3 linked regions of the Homo sapiens genome follow. The protein of the gene in region 3 interacts with the protein of the main gene of each other region in a pairwise test. Each region holds a gene or a part of one and is shown on either strand. Other genes may lie near its edges. The genes, in order: FXN, TSTD2 and RNF138.

What was found.
Region 1: the proteins of RNF138 (region 3) and FXN interact in binary tests that used the Homo sapiens proteins (3 or more experiments, as listed by UniProt).
Region 2: the proteins of RNF138 (region 3) and TSTD2 interact in binary tests that used the Homo sapiens proteins (3 or more experiments, as listed by UniProt).

Annotation. Positions count from the first base shown.
Region 1 is NC_000009.12:69,052,711-69,059,821, reverse strand, and holds part of FXN (frataxin, mitochondrial isoform 1 preproprotein), read right to left. Parts: intron 6,683-7,111; coding exon 6,562-6,682; intron 1-6,561.
Region 2 is NC_000009.12:97,609,272-97,616,382, forward strand, and holds part of TSTD2 (thiosulfate sulfurtransferase/rhodanese-like domain-containing protein 2), read right to left. Parts: intron 2,429-7,111; coding exon 2,303-2,428; intron 1,181-2,302; coding exon 1,075-1,180; intron 1-1,074.
Region 3 is NC_000018.10:32,094,830-32,101,940, reverse strand, and holds part of RNF138 (E3 ubiquitin-protein ligase RNF138), read right to left. Parts: intron 1-7,111. UniProt on the Homo sapiens protein: E3 ubiquitin-protein ligase involved in DNA damage response by promoting DNA resection and homologous recombination.

The sequences.
Region 1 (7,111 bases), on a different chromosome or scaffold from region 3:
GAAACTGCAGCTCGCAAAAGTTAGATATCACTTAAGGACTCTTGGAAAGAAAATACAAATCCAGGATGCTAAGCCAGATCCTTTGTCTCCATATCCAATGAGATGGTGCCTCACTGGGCCAGGAACAGTGACTCACACCTCTAATGCCAGCACTTTGGGAGGCTGAGGCCAGTGGATCACTTGAGGTCAAGAGTTCAAGACCAGCCAGGCCAACATGGTGAAACCCCATCTCTACTAAAAATACAAAAAAAAAAATTAGCTGGACATAGTGGCACGCGCCTGTAATCCCAGTTACTCGGGAGACTGAGGCAAGAGAATCCCTTGAGCCCAGGAGGTGGTGGTTGCAGTGAGCTGAGATCGTGCCACTGCACTCCAGCCTGGGTGACAGAGTGAGATCTCTCTCAAAAAAAAAAAAAAAAAAAAAAAAAAAGATGCTGCCTCTGAGCAGGGGTTTTTAACTTGGGATTAAGTGGTCTCAGGGGGCTGCAGACACTTCCAGCTTGAAGCTGGAATGGTACTCCTGAGTATGTTAACTTAAGTGTAGCTAAAACTGCCTCCTTACCTATTTTGAGTTCGGATCTAAGGGCTTCTCTGTACATAGTGAACTGCAATCTACTCTTGTACCAATCACCGAGTTTTGGCTAATCAAAGGCGGCCAACTGTTCAAACCAAGTTTAAGGCAAACACCAAGCTGTAACCAACCTGGCTGTTTCTGTACCTCACTTTCATTTTCCTTTTTCTTTTCTTTTTTTTTAAGATGAAGTCTCGCTCTGTCGCCCAGGCTGGAGTGCAGTGGCGGGATCCTGGCTCACTGCAAGCTCCGCCTCCCAGGTTCACACCATTCTCCTGCCTCAGCCTCCCAAGTAGCTGGGACTACAGGTGCCTGCCACCACGCCCGGCTAAGTTTTTGCATTTTTAGTAGAGACAGGGTTTCACCGTGTTAGCCAGGATGGTCTCGATCTCCTGACCTCATGATCTGCCCGCCTCGGCCTCCCAAAGTGCTGGGATTACAGGCGTGAGGCACCGCACCAGCACCAGGCCCTCACTTTCATTTTCTGCATGTCACTTTCCTTTTTCTGTGCATAAATCCTAAATCCTCTCCAACCACGTGGCACACCGTGGAGTCTCTCTGAACCTATTCTGGTTGCAGCCTTCCCGATTTATGAATCATTCTTTGCTGAATAAAACTCTGTTAATTTGTTTAAAGTTTTTTTTTTTTTTAACAGGTGAGTATGGAAGTTTTTATTGGGAGAGGGACCAGAGCAGTCATCAGATTCTTAGAGGGAGGTCCTGATCCAAAAAAGATGAAGAACCCTCAGTTCTAAGACAGTAATATGCTGACACCTTAGTGAATAAAGAACATGTCAACAAGCAAATCCTTATTAAAATATCTAAGATGCCAGGACTCCACCTGGGAAAAAAAAGAGGTCAGCCTGGAGGTAACTTCAGGTAGTGGGGTGACTCTAACAGTCTCCAGGCAGATTTTACTAGGTCAAGTAGAGCGGACTCCACAGCTGCCTAGTGACAAGAGGTCCTTTCAGCTCTGGTAGAGTGTCTTCTGTAATGACCAGTGCCAGTAAGGGGTGATGCCTGGGCCAGACATTGGCATCCACCTGTTACCTGGACCACTTGATCAGACGACACACCAGTTAAGAAGCCACTTAAGTCTCCCACTCCACAGAGAGAAAAAAGAACAGATGTCCTCTTGGGTGTATCTGGATTACTGCTTTCATTTGTCTATGTGGCCAGTAGCGAGTTGGTAAAAGGTGTATAAATGCTGAGAGGCATCAACGAAAGCATGTTTTGGAAAAGTCTCATTTACATATGAATCAATATTTATTAAGTCCCTACTATGTACTTGGCACTGTTCCAGACACTGGGATCAAAGAATGGACAGTGTCCCTGCTGTTGAGGAACTCAGTGTGTTATAGGTGGTAGCTGACGTGTAAATAGACAATTATAACACAGAGGGATCAGTGCTCCACAGAGTCAACCTCAGAGTGCTGGGCAAGGGAGAAAGGAAGGACCGTGTCTGCTTGGAGTATCTAGGAAGGCTTCACAAAGGAGGTAACTTCTAGCTATATCTCAGGGGAGGAAAAGACTGCTCTCCCACAAAGCTCAAGTAATAATATTATCAAACATGAAATACATAAATTAGTTAGCACCTGAAGGACTCTAATCAGGAATTCATACTCTAGGGTACAGAGTTAGCATTTCAATGTAGTTAATCACAAGTCCAAACTATAGATGGCAGCCACTGTATAGCTTTAGCTTTCTAAATCTACACTTAAGCATTTGCTAATTAGTAAATGATTTGTTAGAAATAATTTTGCCCTTGAGTGATACTCAAGGTATATGAATTGGCTAGAAAAATATAGGCATCTCTTCCTTTGAAAGAATGGGTTACAGAATCTGGAAAGCCTACTAGCCTAATGTTGTCTTCAGAGAGACAATCTCAGGGCAGGAATCAGGAAGGTTCTCTGACCCACTACTGGGAGCAGAAGGTTTTGTCGCCTGGTTCAAATTGATTCAATGATGTGAGAAATAAAAACAAAATTCTAAGCTCCCAACTGACTCAACAAACTATCTTTTGGCCAAGGGGAGCCCAGAGATATCTAAAAAAAATTTTAAGTTTTGGCCATGATGGGAAAGGAGTTCAAACAGGACTCGTTCTATTCCCTCCCTAACTGCCATTAGTTTTTTTTCCCCTAAGGGCTAAATAGAAACTAGCCCTTTCAAAAAAATTATTTCAGGCCATGCATGGTGGCTCATGCCTGTAATCCCAGCACTTTGGAGCTGCCTGTAATCCCAGCACTTTGGGAGGCCAAAGCAGTTGGATTACCTGAGGTCAGGAGTTCAAGACTAGCCTGACAACATGGCAAAACCCAGTCTCTACTAAAAATATAAAAAAATTAGCCAGGCGTGGTGGCAGGCGCCTGTAATCCCAGCTACTCGGGAGGCTGAGGCAAGAGAATCACTTGAACCCAGGAGGTGGAGGTTGCGATGAGCTGAGATCACACCACTACACTCCAGCCTGGGCAACAGAGCAAGACTCCATCTCAAAAAGAAAAAAAAAAAAAAGACTCACTTCACCACTGGTATCAACTCATCACCTAATTCTGCCCTTCCTTTTTAGTGGTTTCAGCACAACTGACTAGCATTCCTTCCTGATAACCACTGACCACAGAGTGGTCTAAGACAGGGTCTTGCCCTGTCATCCTGGCTGGAGAACAGTGGTGCGATCATGGCTCACAGCTGCCTCGAACTCCCAGTCTTAAGTGATGCTCCTGCTTCAGCCTACCAAATAGCTAGGTTATGTAGATATGCAGTCTCATTTTGTTGCCCTGTAATACATGTTAGTGTTAAGTTTCTGCCTAAGGTGAACATGGGAGACATGCTGCACACGTTAGCTTACTCCACATGTGTGCATATTCATAGATCCTCCCTTTGTGAATATTCATAGATCCTCCCATAATCTGTTGAATATGTATGCTTAGCTACGCCTCTCAGCATAAATTCATGTTCCCTTTGCCCCTTCTTGGAAGTGCTTGTTTTTCAGTTATGGCCAGAGGCTCTGCTTCCTGCCTACAGGTAGTGGGACCCTCTTTAGAAATAGTCCTCCTTTCTAAATTTATAGATTTGTGGCTGGGTGTGCTGGCACACACCTGTAATCCCGGTGCTTTGGGAGGCCGAGGTGAGAGAATCGCTTGAGGCCAGGAGTTTGAGACCAGCCTGGGAAACATAGCGAGACCCATAAATAAAATAAAATAATTAGCCGAGTATGGTGGCATGTGCCTGTAGTCCCAGCTACTAGGGAGGCTGAGGTGGAACGATCACTTGAGCCCAGAAGCTTGAGGCTGCAGTGAGCTATGATTGTGCCACTGCACTCCAGCCTGGGTGACAGAGCGAGGCCCTGTCTCTAAAAATAATAATACTAAATACCATATTTTTATATAAATATATTTAATTAAATATAAATATATTTGTGACTTTTTCAGTTCAATAGAAGTAAACCAAAAGATGACTTTTGCCAGGTGCCGTGGCTCATGCCTGTTAACCCAGCACTTTAGGAGGCTGAGGCGGGTGGATCACTTGAGATCAGGAGTTTGAGACCAGCCTGGCCAACATGGTGAAACCCCATTTCTACTAAAAATACAAAACTTAGCCCTGTATTGTGGTACATGTCTGTAATCCCAGCTACTCAGGAGGTTGAGGCGGGAGAATCGCTTGAACCTGGGAGGCAGAGGTTGCAGTGAGCTGAGATCACACAACTGCACTCCAGCCTGGGTGACAGAGCTAGGCTTCAACTCAAAAAAAAAAAAAAAGAAGAAGAAGAAGTAAACCAAACGCAGCTGCTAGAATATTGGCACATTTGCTTCTAACAAAACATTCATGCAAAGTACTCTGGTCAAACTGGGGCTTCACTAATCCTATAAAAACAGGTTTCATGACTGTTTTTGTAGCTTGCTAATCAATGTCTGCATGTGTGGGCAGAGTTTAGCCTGCAACTTGGTTTCCCTGCAGTTACAGGCTCTAGTAGAGGCTAGGGGAGAGAAGGCCCTTAACTCCCCCACCTCTGATCAGGCTGTGGATGCTCAAGTTGGTAGGTCAGTTTGTAAGAGTTCCCAAGCAGCCCGGCCCTCTAGGGCTGCCTGTGCAAGCACTTTAAAGCCCTGCCCAGGCACTACTGCATTTTTTGCTGCTAACAGCAATTACTGAATCTACTTGAAAGGCATTCAATCCTTCCCTGCTCCATTGCTCCTTTTTTGTTTTTTCAATTCCCTCACTGTCCTTATAGTCAGGCTTGATACCTTCTCTAAGACTTGGTTGCCTCCTCCATTATGTGGAGTGCCTTCTCCATTCAGTGCTCCCGCTGCAATTTCCAATACTATTTCTATCGCTTTAGTCTGATGGCTGATTGTCCTCAACAATTCCATGATTGAATCCAAAATGCACGCTTCGTGACATTTTCTGGTATTAGTCAATTGCCATCAAGAGGATTAACATCTTTGAGGAGCCAGGCGCGGTGGCTCACACCTGTAATCCTAGCACTTTGGGAGGCTGAGGTGGGAGGATTACTTGAGTTCAGGAGTTCAAAACCAGCCTGGCCAACGTGGTGAAACACTGTCTCTACTAAAAATACAAAAATTAGCTGGGTGTGGGGGCGTGTGCCTATAATTCCAGCTACTTGGGAGGTTGAGGCAGGAGAACTGCTTGAACCCGAGAGGCAGAGGTTGCAGTGAGATCATGCCACTGCACTCCAGGCTGAATAACAGAGGGAGACTCTGTCTCAAAAAACAAACAAACAGACAAACAAACCAACCAACCCAGAAAACCATCTTTGAGGGATTTTCTCCCACTGGCAAAAAAGAACTACTTTAAGGCCTAAGCAATAATTCTAAACCCAAAGGCAGACCCTTGCCCAAATCTGCCACCTGGTGGCCAGTCGATAAAGACCAGCACTTCCCTGGCTTCTAGGATCTGGGGCTAATGTTTCATCCAACTCAGAAGTTCTCACACCAGGCCGGACCTGGTGGCTCACGCCTGTTATCCCAAAACTTTGGAAGGCTGATGGGGGTGGACCATTTGAGGTCAGGAGATCGAGACCAGCCTAACCAACATGGTGAAACCCCGTCTTTACTAAAATGCAAAAATTAGCTGGGCATGGTGGCAGATGCCTATAATCCCAGCTACTCGGGAGGCTGAGGCAGGAGAACTGCTTGAACCCAGGAAGCGGAGCAGTGAGCCGAGATTGCGCCACTGCACTCCAGCCTGGGTGACAGAGTGAGACTCCTTCAAAAAAAAACAAGTTCTCATACTAGCTGCATATTGGAATCATCTGTGGAGCTTAAAAATCCCAGTGCCCTGCCCAGGTCATGCCACACCCCAGACCAAGTAATCAAAATCTCTAGGAATAAGACCTAGGGATACACATTAGAATCCCAGGTGAGCTTTTCAAAAATATGCTTCCCAGGAATGCACCCGACCTACCCCATCACTGTCTCACAGGAGCAGGGCTCAAGTCTTTGTAATCTAAATAACTTTTGGGCAGTTATCTTATCCCTACTGAAGAACTACGGGTCTAGTTTGTTGTTCCCTCCATCTGCCTGCTGGACAAATACACACTCAGGCCCCTCTCTGATTTGCCTTCATGGGTATCCACTGAAGCTGGAAAATGAGGCTCAGAGAGGCTGAGTGACTTGCCCAGAGTCACAACAAGCCTGGTAGAGCTGGACTGCAGCTTGAAGCCTAGTCTTGTCTTATCTATCTTATCTATCTATCCAGCTATCTATCTATCTATCTATCTATCTATCCATCCATCCATCCATCCATCCATCCATCCATCCATCTATGACAGAGTCTCGCTCTGTCACCCAGGCTGGAGTGCAGTGGCGTGATTTTGGCTCACTGCAACCTTCACCTCCCGGAACCCTAGTCTTTTAATCCTACCTACAACTACATGCTACTTGATGCTTAGCTCTGCTGGAGGGAAATTCTTCATTTTAGTGAACTAAAATTCTTAGAGGGGGAAACAGAAAAATAAAAGAAGTCAAGAGGTACCCCAAAGGAGACATCATAGTCCTCAAACGTGTATGGCTTGTCTGCAAGGTCTTCAAAAAACTCTGCTAAAGAGTCCAGCGTTTCCTCTGCTAGTCTTTCATAGGTGGTCTCATCTAGAGAGCTGCAGAGGAAGCACAAAACCCAAAACATGATTACCAAATGCTTCCATTTTATTAATATCAAATTTATACATTTGTTATTTAAATTCATTAAATTGATGAAAATAACATGTAAAAAGTAAAAGTTTTTCTTTCTTTTTTTTTTTTTTTTGAGACAGAGTCTCACTCTGTCACCCAGGCTGGAGTGCAGTGGCTGGTCTGAACTCGTGACATCAAGTGATCCACCACGTGCCTCAGCTTCTCGAAATGTTAGGATTACAGGCGTAAGGCACCGTGCCCGGCCCAAAGTAAAAATTTAAAGGCCGGGCGTGGTAGCTCATGCCTGTAATCCCAGCACTCTGGGAGGCCGAGGCAGGCAGATAACACGGTCAGGAGATCGAGACCATCCTGGCTAACATGGTGAAACCCCGTCTCTACTGAAAATACAAAAA
Region 2 (7,111 bases), on a different chromosome or scaffold from region 3:
GTGTAGCTCACATTATACTTCTATTAGCACTACTCTAAATCTAATGATCAACTTATAGGAAATAAAGAGGACAGAGAAATATATCTTGGGAATACAATTATTATTGTCCAGATTATGGGAAACTCTAAAGGTCAAATGATCCAGTTCCTTCAAAAATAAACTGCAAGGGGGGAAAAAAAGATGGAAACAAATCTATAGGTTGAAAGACACTTAAAGAGACATACTGATGAATCACAGTGAATGAACCTTATTTAAATCCTAATAGAAATGAAGCTTAAAAAGTATGAGACAACCGGGAATTGAGTGACTAAACCAACTAGATATTTGATAATTTATTAAGGAATCAGTTAAAATGTTTTAAGATGTGATATCGTTTTGCATCTTTTAAAACAAATTTTTATCTTTTAGACATACCTACTAAAAATATTTACAAATGAAATGGCCTGACATTGGGGTTGCTTTCAAAATAATCCAAGATGGGAGAAGGGATGGGGTATAGGTGAGAGCTGGCCATTAATCAGTTAACTGCTAAAGCTGCATGATAGGTACATAGAACTTCACTATATTATTTTCTCTACTTTTTTAATGTTTAAAATTTTTCATAGTAAAAACTACAATAAAACCCCCAAAAACCTGCCAAACAAATGTCTTTCAACCATTTACCATGGAGAAGATGGGGAAAGAACATTCTAGAGCACAGTGAAAACTGCTGTGGTGTTGAAAGCAACTTGTTTCCTGTAGCAAAAGGCCTATTTGCTCTATTCTGCTAATGAACTGTTTACAAGTAATAATTACACTCTTCCCAAACTGCTTGCTGTCTTTGGAAAGAGCAAACAACTAATTGATAAACCATCACCAAGAGGAATAAGATAGGTCACTCGAAGAGGTGAGTCTTCAACCCCACAGCACCACAGAGAAACAGTATAAGCACTGGATGCAGCCAAGTGTTAGCCACCCCACAGCTGCTTTAGAGAGGACTCATGACTGCTGCTGATCACAGTGCCTAGCTTTCTTATTTGTCTATTAAGTTTTGTCCCTGTGAATTAAAGCACAATCTTCTAAAAGCAAGCATACCAGGCTTCTTGTAGGAGATCTTTTTGGGGCTGATCCCCATGGGCACGATTTCTTCAAATACACCAACACGCAATTCTGGAAAACAGTGAGCTCCTCCTTTGCTGGTCTAGCCAATGAGAAACAAAACAGAATACAGTCTTGCTGTCCCATCTCCAGGTATAAGACAAGTGCCAATATAAGAATGATGGTCTGTTTTGTAATAACAATAGCTGAAGTCTTAAAAAACCTCTAGTTAGGGCCCAGAATGTTCCAGATAATTCAACATTGATAAATACTTACTGCATACCTGCCATGTGCAGGAATGTTAAGCTGAAAAAGTGTTTCTTTAGGTGTAAGCATTTAATTATAAAACTGCAACACCGCTGAGCAATTCTAACATGTGACTATACCCGGTTTTCATTCTTTTCCTATCATTGCCAGCATGAACGCTAGCAAGGCATTTCCCATCACCTTATCACTTATTATGACAAGGTATAAAGTCACTCAAACAAAGCAGCCCACCTGTGAGAGCAACAACTTTATTCCCCCATGTGGTATGAAGTGTTAATCTTACAATTCCAGATTTACTAAAAACACAGTGATCTGCTGACCAGGCTGGTGGTCTCTCAAGTGAGCTAATATGTCCAAGATTTGGAGTCCCAGATTGCATGAGCTGTAACATTCTTATTTTATAAGAAGGGATACTGAGGTCTAGAGCACTAGCTGGTCCAAAATCATATGGTGACTCAGTGAAAGAATGGGGACGAGCATACTCCTTCTATTGTACTGTCTCGTAACCTAAAGAGAAAAGCACATTTAAAGGGGAAAGGGGGCAGGTGCGGTATCTCACGTCCATATCTCAGCACTATAGGAGGCTGACGTGGGAGGACTGCTTGAACCCAAGAGTTCCATACCAGCCTGGGCAACATAGTGAGACCCCGTCTCTACAAAAAAATTAGCCAGACATGGTGATGCACGCCTATGGTCCTAGCTACCTGGGAGGATCACCTGAGCCCAGGGAGGTTGAGGCTGCAGTGAGCCATGATCACGCCACTGCACTCCAGCCTGGGTGACAGAGCAAGACCCTGTCAAAAAACAAAACAAAAAAACTCCCCAAGCCCCAAAAAATAAAGGGGAAAGGGTATTTATTTGGCACTGCTTATTTCTCTACTTTGAACTCCTCTTCAATAACATGCACAGAGGCAGAAGCAGATGGCTCTAGATCCATTTAATTTTCATTTTCTCTTACCTTAAAATCATCTTTACACAGGTCATCCTTAAACAATGGGAAGGAAAGCATGACTTCCACATAAAGTCTGGTAGCCAATTTGCTTCCACCAACTGTCCCATTGATTCCTTCTGCAGCAATTCGAATCTGAGACACAAGACGGTGAAAAAGAGAACAGATTGTTCTTAGCTTGGTTATCTTTCCAGGGAAGAACAATAGGCTCATGTGTGTCAATGAGTTTAACAGGAAAAGCAGAGACGCTGATGAGGACACCAAAGTGTTACTGGACAAAGATATCTGTGTTTTTCTTTTTTATTTTAAACTTTTAAGTCCAGGGATACAAGTGCAGGTTTGCTCTGCAGGTAAAACTGTGTCATGGGGGTTTATTGTGCAGATTATTTCACCACCCAGGTATTAAGCTTAGTACCCCTTAGTTATGCTCCTGATCCTCTCCCTCCTTCCACCCTCCACCCTCCAAAAGGCCCCAGTGTCTGTTGTTCCCCTCTATGTGTCCACGTTCTCATAATTTAGCTCCCACTTATAAGTGAAAATATGTAGTATTTGGTTTTCTCTTCCTGCGTTAGTTTGCTAAGGATAATGGCTCCCAGCTCCATCCATGTCCCTGCAAAAGACATGATCTTGTTCTTTTTTATAGCTGCATAGTATTCCCACATTTTCTTTATCCAGTTTATCACTGATGGGCATTAGGTTGATTCCATGTCTTTGCTACTGTGAACAGTGCTGCAATGAACATATGCATACATGTGTCTTTATAACAGAACAATTTATATTCTTTTGGGTACATACCCAGTAATGGGATTGCTGGGTCGAATGATAGTTCTGTCTTTAGGTCTTTGAGGAATTACCACATTGTCTTCCACAACGGTTGAGCTAATTTACACTCCCACCTATAGTGTATAAGTATTCCTTTTTCTCTACAACCTCACCAGCATCTGTTATTTTTTGACTTTTTAATAACAGCCATTCTGACAGGTGTGAGATGGATACCTGTTTGTTTTTTAAGACAGAGTCTTGCTCTGTTGCCCAGGCTGGAGTGCAATAGCACAATCTCGGCTCACTGCAGCCTCCACCTCCTGGGTTCAAGCGATTCTCCTACCTCAGCCTCCTGAGTAGCTGGGATTACAGGCATGCGCCACCAAGCCCAGCTAATGTTCGTATTTTTAGTAGAGACGGGGTTTCGCCATGTTGGCCAGGCTGGTCTCCAACTCCTGGCCTCAAGTGATCTACCCGCCTTGGCCTCCCAAAGTGCTGGGATTACAGGCACAAGCCACCGTGCCCAGCTGGATACTTGTATTTTTCTAAAATGGCATAGCCTTCAGTTCAGATGAGGTATTCTGTTTCATGCATGCTGAACAAAAGAATGTGAATAAAACTCCTGGAAAGCCCCATTTGCTATGGAGCTACAATAGTCCAACAGCCAAAGAAGTGAATTCTGAGCTTAATCTAAATCCAGGTAGCTTAACAGAGTCCTCCACAGAGGTCAGCAGATCTAGGCTCAAGATTAAGCTCTGCCACTCACTTGCATGTAGCTGTGAGAAAGTTAATTGACTTCTCTGAATCTTAATTTCTTTATATGAATAAAAAGGGAACTAAAGAGCACCAGAAATGAAAAGAACTGCTGAGGAGATACTACCAAAATCCTAAAGCACAGAGTACATCTGAGGGCTGAGGGTATACATGAGCATGTATCTCTGCATGGTGTTTGGAGGACAGCCTACCACTGCAAACCATCCACTGGAATACAAGTTCCACATGGGTGTGTGTCTGTTTTGCTCACCAGCATATCCCCTAGAACAGTGCCTGCCACATAGTAGGCACTCAATACGATTTGTTGAATAAATGAATATGCATCCATATCTGGGGCTCTTTGGCATCTCAAGTCCCATATTCTCTTTGAAATGCTCCCCTGGTTAGGGGACATTAGAGCCTGGGGTAAAGCCCCAGCCTTAAGAGGCAGTGTTCTGGGGGCCCTGCAGAGTTGGTTGTTTTCGTACTACAAAATCCTGTGGATGAGTTTAAAGATGGATCATCTTTAAAGGGAACTGAGCTCTCTAAAGAAAAGTGCTAGCAAGGGCAGCACATGTGGCATCATGGCACTGTCTGGAAAAAGAGATGATTTAATTCAAGGTCCTATATTGTTCTAGTCATATAACACTGATATATACCAGTACTTCATAATTTGAAAATTTTTAATGGCTGTCCTTTTTTAGGGTCCAGAGAAGACACATCAGTTGATGCCTCACTTGATCAATTCTTTTTTTTTTTTTTTTTTTGAGACAGAGTCTCGCTGTGTCGCCCAGACTGCAGTGCAGTGGTGCAATCTCGGCTCACTGCAAGCTCCGCCTCCCAGGTTCACACCATTCTCCTGCCTCGGCCTCCCAAGTAGCTGGGACTACAGGTGCCCGCCACCACGCCCGGCTAATTTTTCATATTTTTAGTAGAGACGGGGTTTCACCGTGTTAGCCAGGATGGTCTCAATCTCCTGACCTTGTGACCTGCCTGCCTCGGCCTTCCAAAGTGCTGGGATTACAGGCATGAACCATCGCACCCAGCCCTACCTGATCAACTCTTTAGGGTATGGATATAAAACAAGATTCATGGCACAAGCCAATGCCAACTCATTGGAAGTGGTATATAATTTTAAACTTTGAAAGAACATAAAAGACACAAACATATGCATGTGTGTAATATGATCAGAGAATATTTTAGGAAAATAAAAACCATCGATAACCCTACATGCCTAGATAATCCTTACTAACATTTTGGTATACACAACCTTCCATGTTTATACATGCACTTCTGGTTTTGTCATGAACATGCATTCTATATTCTCCAAATATCTACTGAGGGTCTACTACATGCTAAGCTCTGTTCCAGCACTGAGAATACATCAATTAAGACCAAAATTCCTGTCCTCATGAAGCTTATAAATGAAGATTATACTTTCAGATAGTAATAAATTCTTTGAAAAGCAGAAAGGGATAGAACGTGACAAGATCTGGAGAGGACTACTTCAGACTGCAGCTCTAAGGAGACAATATGTGAGCCGAGATCTGAAGTGGGGTATGCGCCATGTGAAGGTGCAGGGAAGAGCACTCTAGAGAGGAAGGAAACAGCAAATGTCAATACCCTGAGCTGGTAAATGACCCTGGCAGGTTCTAGAAAATTAAGAAGCTTGGAATCACACCTCTACGTATAGTACTGTAAAATGTTTTCCAGAGTTCCATGACAAAGATTCCGGGTCACATCCAGACTCCTTGAGAAACAGTGCTGCAGTCTAGTGAAGCCAGTTCTGGGCATGGGAGAGGGAAGCAGGAAGCCTGTGACATCTCTGCTACACAGGCTACTGTCCCCACTACCAACTTATAGTGGACTACATAGAAAAATAGAGCCCAATCAGTGTAAGAGTCAGAAAACCCACTCCAAAAGAGTTTCTGACTACAGCAGGTAGGATGAAGTATGTATGTCTAAGTACCTCTCTTGGGGTAGGCTAGTAGATTCTTTTCTAATTTATTTTAATCTCAGAACCCAAAGAGAAGACAAGCACATCTGCTCCCTATATAGCTAGGGCAGAGCATGCTCTAAACTCGTGCACTAGACTTTGAACCCCCAGGATTCTCTAACAGAAATCCTTCAAAGCTCCTTAGTGAGGAAGGCCTTGTAAGAAACTGAGAAGAACAATCATTAGCATTTATTCAGCACTTGCTATGAGACAGAAGCATTACATTATAATCCTGAAAGGCAGATATCATAATCCCCGTTTTACAGAAAAGGAAACAAAAGCTCAGAGAAATCAAGTAACTTGCCCAGTGGTATAGCTGATAGCTGGTAAATCTGGGATTCAAAACCAGATCTTACTAGCTCCCAATCTTATAACTTTTCCTTTCCAAAGCCTTCAATGTATCCCCTCAAATTTTTTGAGGCAATAAAGAATACACAGCAATAGAGTAGAGGCTTTTTTCCCATAATTCTACAACTGTCAGGTTCTTCTCTTTCCCTACTTAGGCACTGATATTTTGCCAAATCTCCAAACACAAAACTCTCATTAAACTGGGCATGTATCCTTGACACCTAGGAATTTATATCCAAGATCTAGGCAAGTGCTGCCACCTTGTGGGTAAGATCCCTCATTGCTAATTTAGCACTTGGGTTGGGCCAAGAAAAATGATCTGCCTCTAAACCAAGAGGCTGTTTTCAAACCTTGTACATTCAGGTTTACTGTGAGAGTATCCATCTTTCAGGGTGTGGAAGTTTTCTGAATAGGAATGGTGATGAAAGTATTAAATATTATTTATTTATTTACACCAGGAATTGTGCTAGGAATTAGGGATACAGTGCTTGAAAAAAATATAGCTTTTCCCCTTTAGGAGCTTACAGACTATGGGAGGTCACAGATATTAAAATAAAAGTTACAAATGGACAAATGTTATGAAAAACAATTACAAGATGCCATGAGAGAGTGCACTGGGAAAAATGAATTTAGATTGACAGGAAAGGTCTCTTTGAGGAAGTGTCATGAAAATTGAAAACTAAGCTTGAGTAAAAATCAGACTGGAGCAGCAGAGTGGGTGTAGGAGAGTTCCTTGAAGATAGTTTGCTTGTAAGAAGGCCCAAGGAGAGAAAAGAACTCGGTGGGTTCCAAAAAACTGAAAGACCATGTTGCTGGAGTATAATGAGCAAAGAACAGTATCAGACGAGAGGAAAAGGTAAGAAGGGGCCAACTCACGCAGGAACCTAAGGGCATTTTTAAGGCACTGGATTTCCTCCATATGCACCAGAAGTGGCAGCCACTGAAAGAGTTTGAGGAGG
Region 3 (7,111 bases):
TATGCCCCTGCACTCCAGCCTGGGCAACAGAGTTAGACCCTGTCTCAAACAAGCAAAAATGTAATATGGAAAAATGCATGCAGCCTTGCTAGCAACTAAAGAAATACATTTTAATGTGACTTCTAGACACCACTATGAACTGTATTAAAATAGCATAAAAATGCTTAAAAAAACAAAATTGGCAAAGATGATGGATTACAAATATACTTTTATAGTACTAATGGCATTTTGTAAATTAGCTCAATTTTTGGGAAAGCAACATGACATTTATGAAAATAGCAGTTAACACTTATTGCGTACATAATATGTGCTAGGTGCTAGGCTGGATCCCAGAAACTATCCATTCATGATCTTGAATTCTTAAAAAAAAATAAATTTTTCTTAATAAGTTCCTTCATTTTACAGATGAGGAAACTAAGGCTTAAAAAAATAAAATGTTAATAAACCTGTAAGAGTGAGGCAGGCAAATCACTTGAGGTCAGGAGTTCAAGACCAATCTGGCCAACATGGTGAAACCCTGACTCTAATTTAAAAATATATATATATACACAAAAATTAGCCAGGAGTGGTGGTGCACGCCTGTAATCCCAGCTACTCAGAAGACTGAGGTAGAAGAATGGCTTGAACCTAGGAGGCGGAGGTTACAGTGAGCCAAGACTGCGTGTGCCACTGCACTCCAGCCTGGACAACAGAGCCAGACTCTGTCTTTGAAAAAAAAAAAAAAAAGAAACCTATAAGAGGTTGAAGCCCAGAAGATGTTTCTGTCATTCAAATACAAAGCCCTGCATGTTCCCTCCTACCTCGGGACCTTTGTCCAGAATGTTTCTTCTCCCCAGAATGTTCTATGCACGAGCACAGCCCTCCACAAATTAATACCTATATCTCTCTTAGATATCAGCAACAATATCACTTCCTAAAGAAAGGGTCATCGATACTCACCCACTAGATCTGATCCCTCTCTTATACTCTCTCGAAACCTATACATTTGTAATTACACCATTTTTCTGAGCATTTATTTTAATTTAAATATATCTCAGGCCAGGCGCAGTGGCTCAGGCCTGTGATCCCAGCACTCTGGGAGGCCAAGGCGAGCAGATCGCTTGAGCTCAGGCATTCGAGACCAGCCCGGCCAACATGGTGAAACCCAGTCTATACAAAAAATACAGGCCGGGCGCGGGGGCTCACGCCTGTAATCCCAACACTTTGGTAGGCCGAGGTGGGTGGATCACCTGAGGTTGGGAGTTCGAGACCAGCCTGACCAACATGGTGAAACCCCCGTCTCTATTAAAAATACAAAATTAGCCAGGCCTGGTGGCGCATGCCTTTAATCCCAGCTACTTGGGAGGCTGAGGCAGGAAAATCGCTTAAACCCGGGAGACGGAGGTTGCAGTGAGCCGAGATCGCGCCATTGCACTCCAGCCTGGCCAACAAGAGCAAAACTCCGTCTCAAAAAAAAAAAAAAAAAAAAAAAAGTTAGTTGGGTGTGGTGGTGGCACATGCCTGTAGTCCCAGCTACTGGGAAGGCTAAAGGGGGATTACTTGAGCCCAGAGAGGTCAAGGCTGCAGTGAGCCATGATCATGCCACTGCACTCTAGCCTGGGCAACAGAGCAACAGAGAAAGACCCTGTCTCAAATATATATATAAAATAATAAAATAGAGGTATTCAGGTCTCTTATGTCCAATTTTACTGTTCCTTCCCCTGTACAACCAAAGATTTTATATATATATATATATATATCTCAATCACTAACACCCAGCTCCAAGAGGGCAGGGATCCTATCTATTTGCTCTTTACAATATCCCTGGCACCTAACAGTGCTAGGCACCTATTAGGCAGTCCTAATATTTGCTAAAGCAATGAATGCCAATTTACCTTAATTTAAAAAGTATTAAATCCCTTAACCAAAAGATATAATTGACAGTTCTCAAATCAAAACCTTGAGCACTTTCCATGAACAAGACACTTCACTAGAGCTGCAATTATTCTTGTGTGATGTATCAGAAATATTTGTTTGTATCTACCCTTTGACCCAGCAATTCCATTTGTCAGAATTTAGCTGGCAGGAAAAACTCTCATATGTGAAACGATATATTAGTAGGCTTAAGTAAGTAACAGGAGATCTTGGATGCTTTCTTTATAAAGCTTGCAGCCTAACCAGTGAAACTGACATTGGTCAAATTATCTGATTCCAAAAATGTTATGATTACAAACTGTGATAACAGGTACAAAGAATGGCCGGGTGCAGTGGCTCACACCTGTAATCCTAGCACTTTGGGAGGCCGAGGCGGGGCAGATCATTTGGGGTCAGGAGTTGGAGACCAGCCTGACCAACATGGTGCAACACCATCTCTACTAAAAATACAAAAAAATTAGCCGGGTATAGTGGTGCATGCCTGTAGTTCCAGCTACACGGGAGATTGGGGCAGGAGAATCTCTTGAACCCAATGGGTGGAGGTTGCGGTGAGCCAAGACTGCACCACTGCACTCCAGTCTGGGCAACAGAGCGAGATTTTGTCTAAAAATAAAATAAAATAGAGATATTCAGGTCTCTTATCTCCAATTTTACTGTTCCTTCCTCTGTACAACCAAGCATGTTTCTTCAGACATAAAACGAATTATTCTCATCTCACTTTGGGCTGGAATGGATCAAAGTGCTAGACAGAACTTATTTCAAAACAAAGCAGAAGTAGGAAGGAAAAAGGTACAAATCAAGAATTACTAAAACTAATTTTCATGTTCCTGAAAAGGCCCGTATCTTCAGAACAGGGCATTACCCTATAACCAAAAAAGGTCTCTTTACATTTCTCTCAACTTTAAACTAGCAGATGCTAGACGAATTTCCATTACGCATTCTCCCAACAAAAGGCTAATCAACAACACTGGGAGAGGAAAAACAATATTCCCACTCATCATGCTCCCAATTTCAGTATAAATTAAATAATTTAAAATCTGGCACTTAGTCTATCTATTTTCCGAGTCGATAATCGAGATCATTCCCCAAAAAAACTTCAAAAAAAAAAAAAATCAAAGGTTGTAAACTAGTCCTCAAGATTTAAAATTAAGTAAATCTTTTTTTTTTTTTTTTTGAAACGGAGTCTCACTCTGTCGCCCGGGCTGGAGTGCAGTGGCACCATCTCAGCTCACTGCAAGCTCCACCTCCCGGGTTCATGCCATTCTCCTGCCTCAGCCTCCCGAACAGCTGGGATTACAGGCGCCTGCCGCCACACCCGGCTAATTTTTTTGTATTTTTAGTAGAGACAGGGTTTCACTGTGTTAGCCAGGATGGTCTCGATCTCCTGACCTTGTGATCCGCCTGCCTCGGCCTCCCAAAGTGCTGGGATGACAGGCGTGAGCCACTGCGCCCGGCCTCAACCTTTATTATATAATTAAATAGCACAGATTTTAGGAAAGAAGAAAATTATTTTAAAGTATATACTTAGAGCATAACTACTCAAGTAACAAGATACCAATAAAGCTGTTAAAATTACAAAGCCAGGTGCTGTGGCACTCACCTGTAGTCCCCACTACTCAGGAGGCTCAGGTGGGAGGACTGCTTGAGACCAGGAGTTTGAGACCAGCCTGAGCAACAAAGCAAGACCCCATCTCTAAAAAATTTAAACTATAAGAAATATATTGTGGGCGCAGTGGCTCACACCTGTAATCCTAGCACTTTGGGAGGCCAAGGCAAGAGGATCACTTGAGGTCAGGAGTTCAAAACCAGCCTGGAGTTCAAAACCAGCCTGGCCAACATGGTAAAACCCTGTCTCTACTAAAAATACAAAAAATTAGCAGGGCGTGATGGTGCACGCCTGTAATCCCAACTACTTGGGAGGCTGAGGGAGTAGAATCGCTTGAACCAGGGAGGTGGGAGGTTGCAGTGAGCCAAGACCGCACCACTGCAATCCAGCCTGGGCAACACAGTGAGACTGTCTCAAAACAAACAAACAAACAAACAAAAATAACACACACACACACACACACACACACACACACATATATACATACACATATACACACACACACACAAATACACATACATACACATATACATACACATATATACATATATATAGCCCGAGCAACAGAGTGAGACCCTGTTTCTAAATTAATTAATTAGGCCGAGGATAGTGGCTCATGCCTATAATCCCAGCACTTTCGGAGGCCAAGGCGGGCAGATCACTTGAGCGCAGGGGTTCGAGACCAGCCTGGCCAATATAGTGAAACCTCATCTCTACTAAAAATACAAAAAAACAAAAAACAAAAATTAGCCGAGCATGGTGGTGCATGCCTGTAGTCCAGCTACTTGTTGTGCCTGTAGTCCCAGCTACTCAGGAGGACGAGGCAGGAGAATCGCTTAAATCCAGGAGGTGGAGGTTACAGTAAACCAAGATCCCACCACTGCACTCCAGCCTGGGCAACAGAGACTCGGTCTCAAAAATAAATAATTAATTTAAAATTGTTTTAAAATTAAGGATTAAAAAAAGTAAATATGAACTAAAAACTCAGGAACTGGATGTTCAAGCTGGTCAAATAGGAAATTACACAAATTTGTGCTTAACAAGAAGTAGAAGTTCATTTTAAAAGATGCCTCCTTACAGAGAGGCCTAAAAGCAAAAACAGATTAGATTTCCATTTTTAAGAGTTCAGCAAAGAATCAAACTTGTTATATGTAATTTTTATTGCAATAGTAGCTTACTTCTGCCATGTACAAGAATTATTTCCTTGACTGTTCAAAACAAGGAAGAACAGAGGTTTCCAAGAGCCTTTGAAGATTACAGAATAAAACACCAAAAGAGATAAACACCTTACTCCTACGCCAGTCTGTACTTTCTTCTGAAGCCTTGCTTTGACTACCTGCTCAACTTTCATATTAATTTGTCTTAACATGTTTTTCAAAATATTACATCTGCCAGGTGTGGAGGCTCTTGCCTGTAATCCCAGCACTTTGGGAGGCTGAGGCAGGAGGACGGTTTGCACCCAGGAGTTAGAGACTAGGTTGGGCAACAAAGCAAGACCCATCTCTACAAAAAAATTTTTTTTAATAGCCAGGCATGGTGGTGAGTGCCTGTAGTCCCAGCTAGCTACTTGGGAGGTTGAGGTGGGAAGATTTCTTGAGCCTGGGAGGTCGAGGCTGCAGTAAGCTATGATCATGCCACTGCACTCCTCGCAACAGAGCGAGACCCTATTTCAAAAAAAACAAAAACAAAAACAAAATTACATCTGACCACTCTAAGGCCTCTGAAAATGCTGACTGCTTCCTTAACAATCATTTGCAGATGATCTGAATCCTCAGTTTCCACTCTCACTTTATTCCTGGTTTTCTTCCTATCCTTCTGTTCGTTCCTTGTCTGGCTGCAATTTTCTCCACTCGATATTTAAGTAAGTATTCTCCAACACTTGGCTCTATCTAGGTGCTCTTCAATCTTTCCATTTATATACCTCACTCGGTGACCACTTCGACACCCACAGCTTTAGCTCCATGTATTCCAGATCTACATATGGTATACACACTTAACTACTGAACCCAGTCATCAAATCTTACACTGTCCTTAAAATGTCAGGAGTCTCTCTGCTCCATTCCTACTATCATTTCCTTAGTTCAGGTTCTAATCATTTCTCTCCCTGACACATCAATGAATGACCGACCTCTTCACTAGTCTCACCACTACCAAGCTGAAAACCCTGCTATGAAGGTAAACTTTCTAAAAATGAAATGTGACCACGCTGCTCCCCTGCCAAAAATTATTTACTAGGTCTAGTATTATTCATTAGGTTATCTAATTATTTAATAGGTTTTCAGGAAAACACTCAAATTAGCTTACACAGTAAGTTCCTGCCAATAACGCTAAGCTCCATCTCCACTACGCTGTCTTTGGCTCCAGCCAAACTTCAAAGTCCAGCTCACATTCATCCTCTGTACCCTCCTTGACTCTGGCATTCCCCACAAACACTGAATACAAACGCTGACCTAAGGCATTACTTCATCTAGGAAATTATCCCTATCCTTTAGGCTAATTTAGATACCTGCTCTAGATGCTCACATAAAATCTCTTCTATATCAATCACACTCATTTATAGGTCTCTCCAGCGGACTATTAAGTCTCCAGAGAAACAGTACTTAGTAGTCCCTGCACCAGACAAAGAGCATTCAACAACTGCAGTTTCAGGGAATGAATGGGGATTAAACGGGAGTTTATATTTTAGTAATGTTATTCTAATGATAATGAACTTGCTCCTTTTACTAGGATAGTCAGTAGTCAAATCCTTTCCTGTCATTGAAATGGCAATTAAAATTTTTCATTTTCTAACTGATCCACAGTAACCCAAAGCCCTTATCACTTCAACTCTCTATTCGTGAATCAAAAATTGATTTTGCAGCCAAATATAAATTTCTTTAAAGGCATAGGTCTGTCCTTTGTGAAGAAGGTAGAGCAAATGACATAGATAACTATGTTAATTAAAAAACAGGTCAGGTGCCATGCCTCACGCCTGTCATCCCAGCACTTTTGGAGGCCAAGACAGGAGGATGACTTCAGCCCAGGAGTTCAAGATCTGACTGGGCAACGTAGTGAGGCCCTGTCTCTATAAAAAAGAAAACAAAATTAGTCAGGCATGGAGGCATGCTCCTGTAGTCCCAGCAACTTGAGAGGCTGAGGCGGGAGGGTTGCTCCAACGGGGGAGGTCAAGGCTGCAATGAAACATGATCACACCACTGCACTCCACCCTGGACAACAGAATAAGACCATGTCTCAAAAAAAAACGATAATTTTTAAAATTTCTCTCCAATTCCCCCACTAAACTCCTTCCAACTGATTAAAATCCTGTTCCTCCATTACCACCTCTTCCAAATTAAACTTTTTTTCTCCCTCTGCCTATTCTTTTAATTCATTGTTCAGGCAGAACTGTCTACGTACAATAAGTTGATTTGAGAAAGGTCCTGAATTAAAAACAATCATCTCCAACATTTTCCACAGTCTTGAGGTCAAATCAAATTATAAACCTTGATTTAAAATGTCCCACAAGGGAAGCGGACTAGAGCAATCTACACGGAATTTTGGGGAGTGCTAAAAACTACAATGAGGCCCATTAGGTCAATGACCCAAAGGATA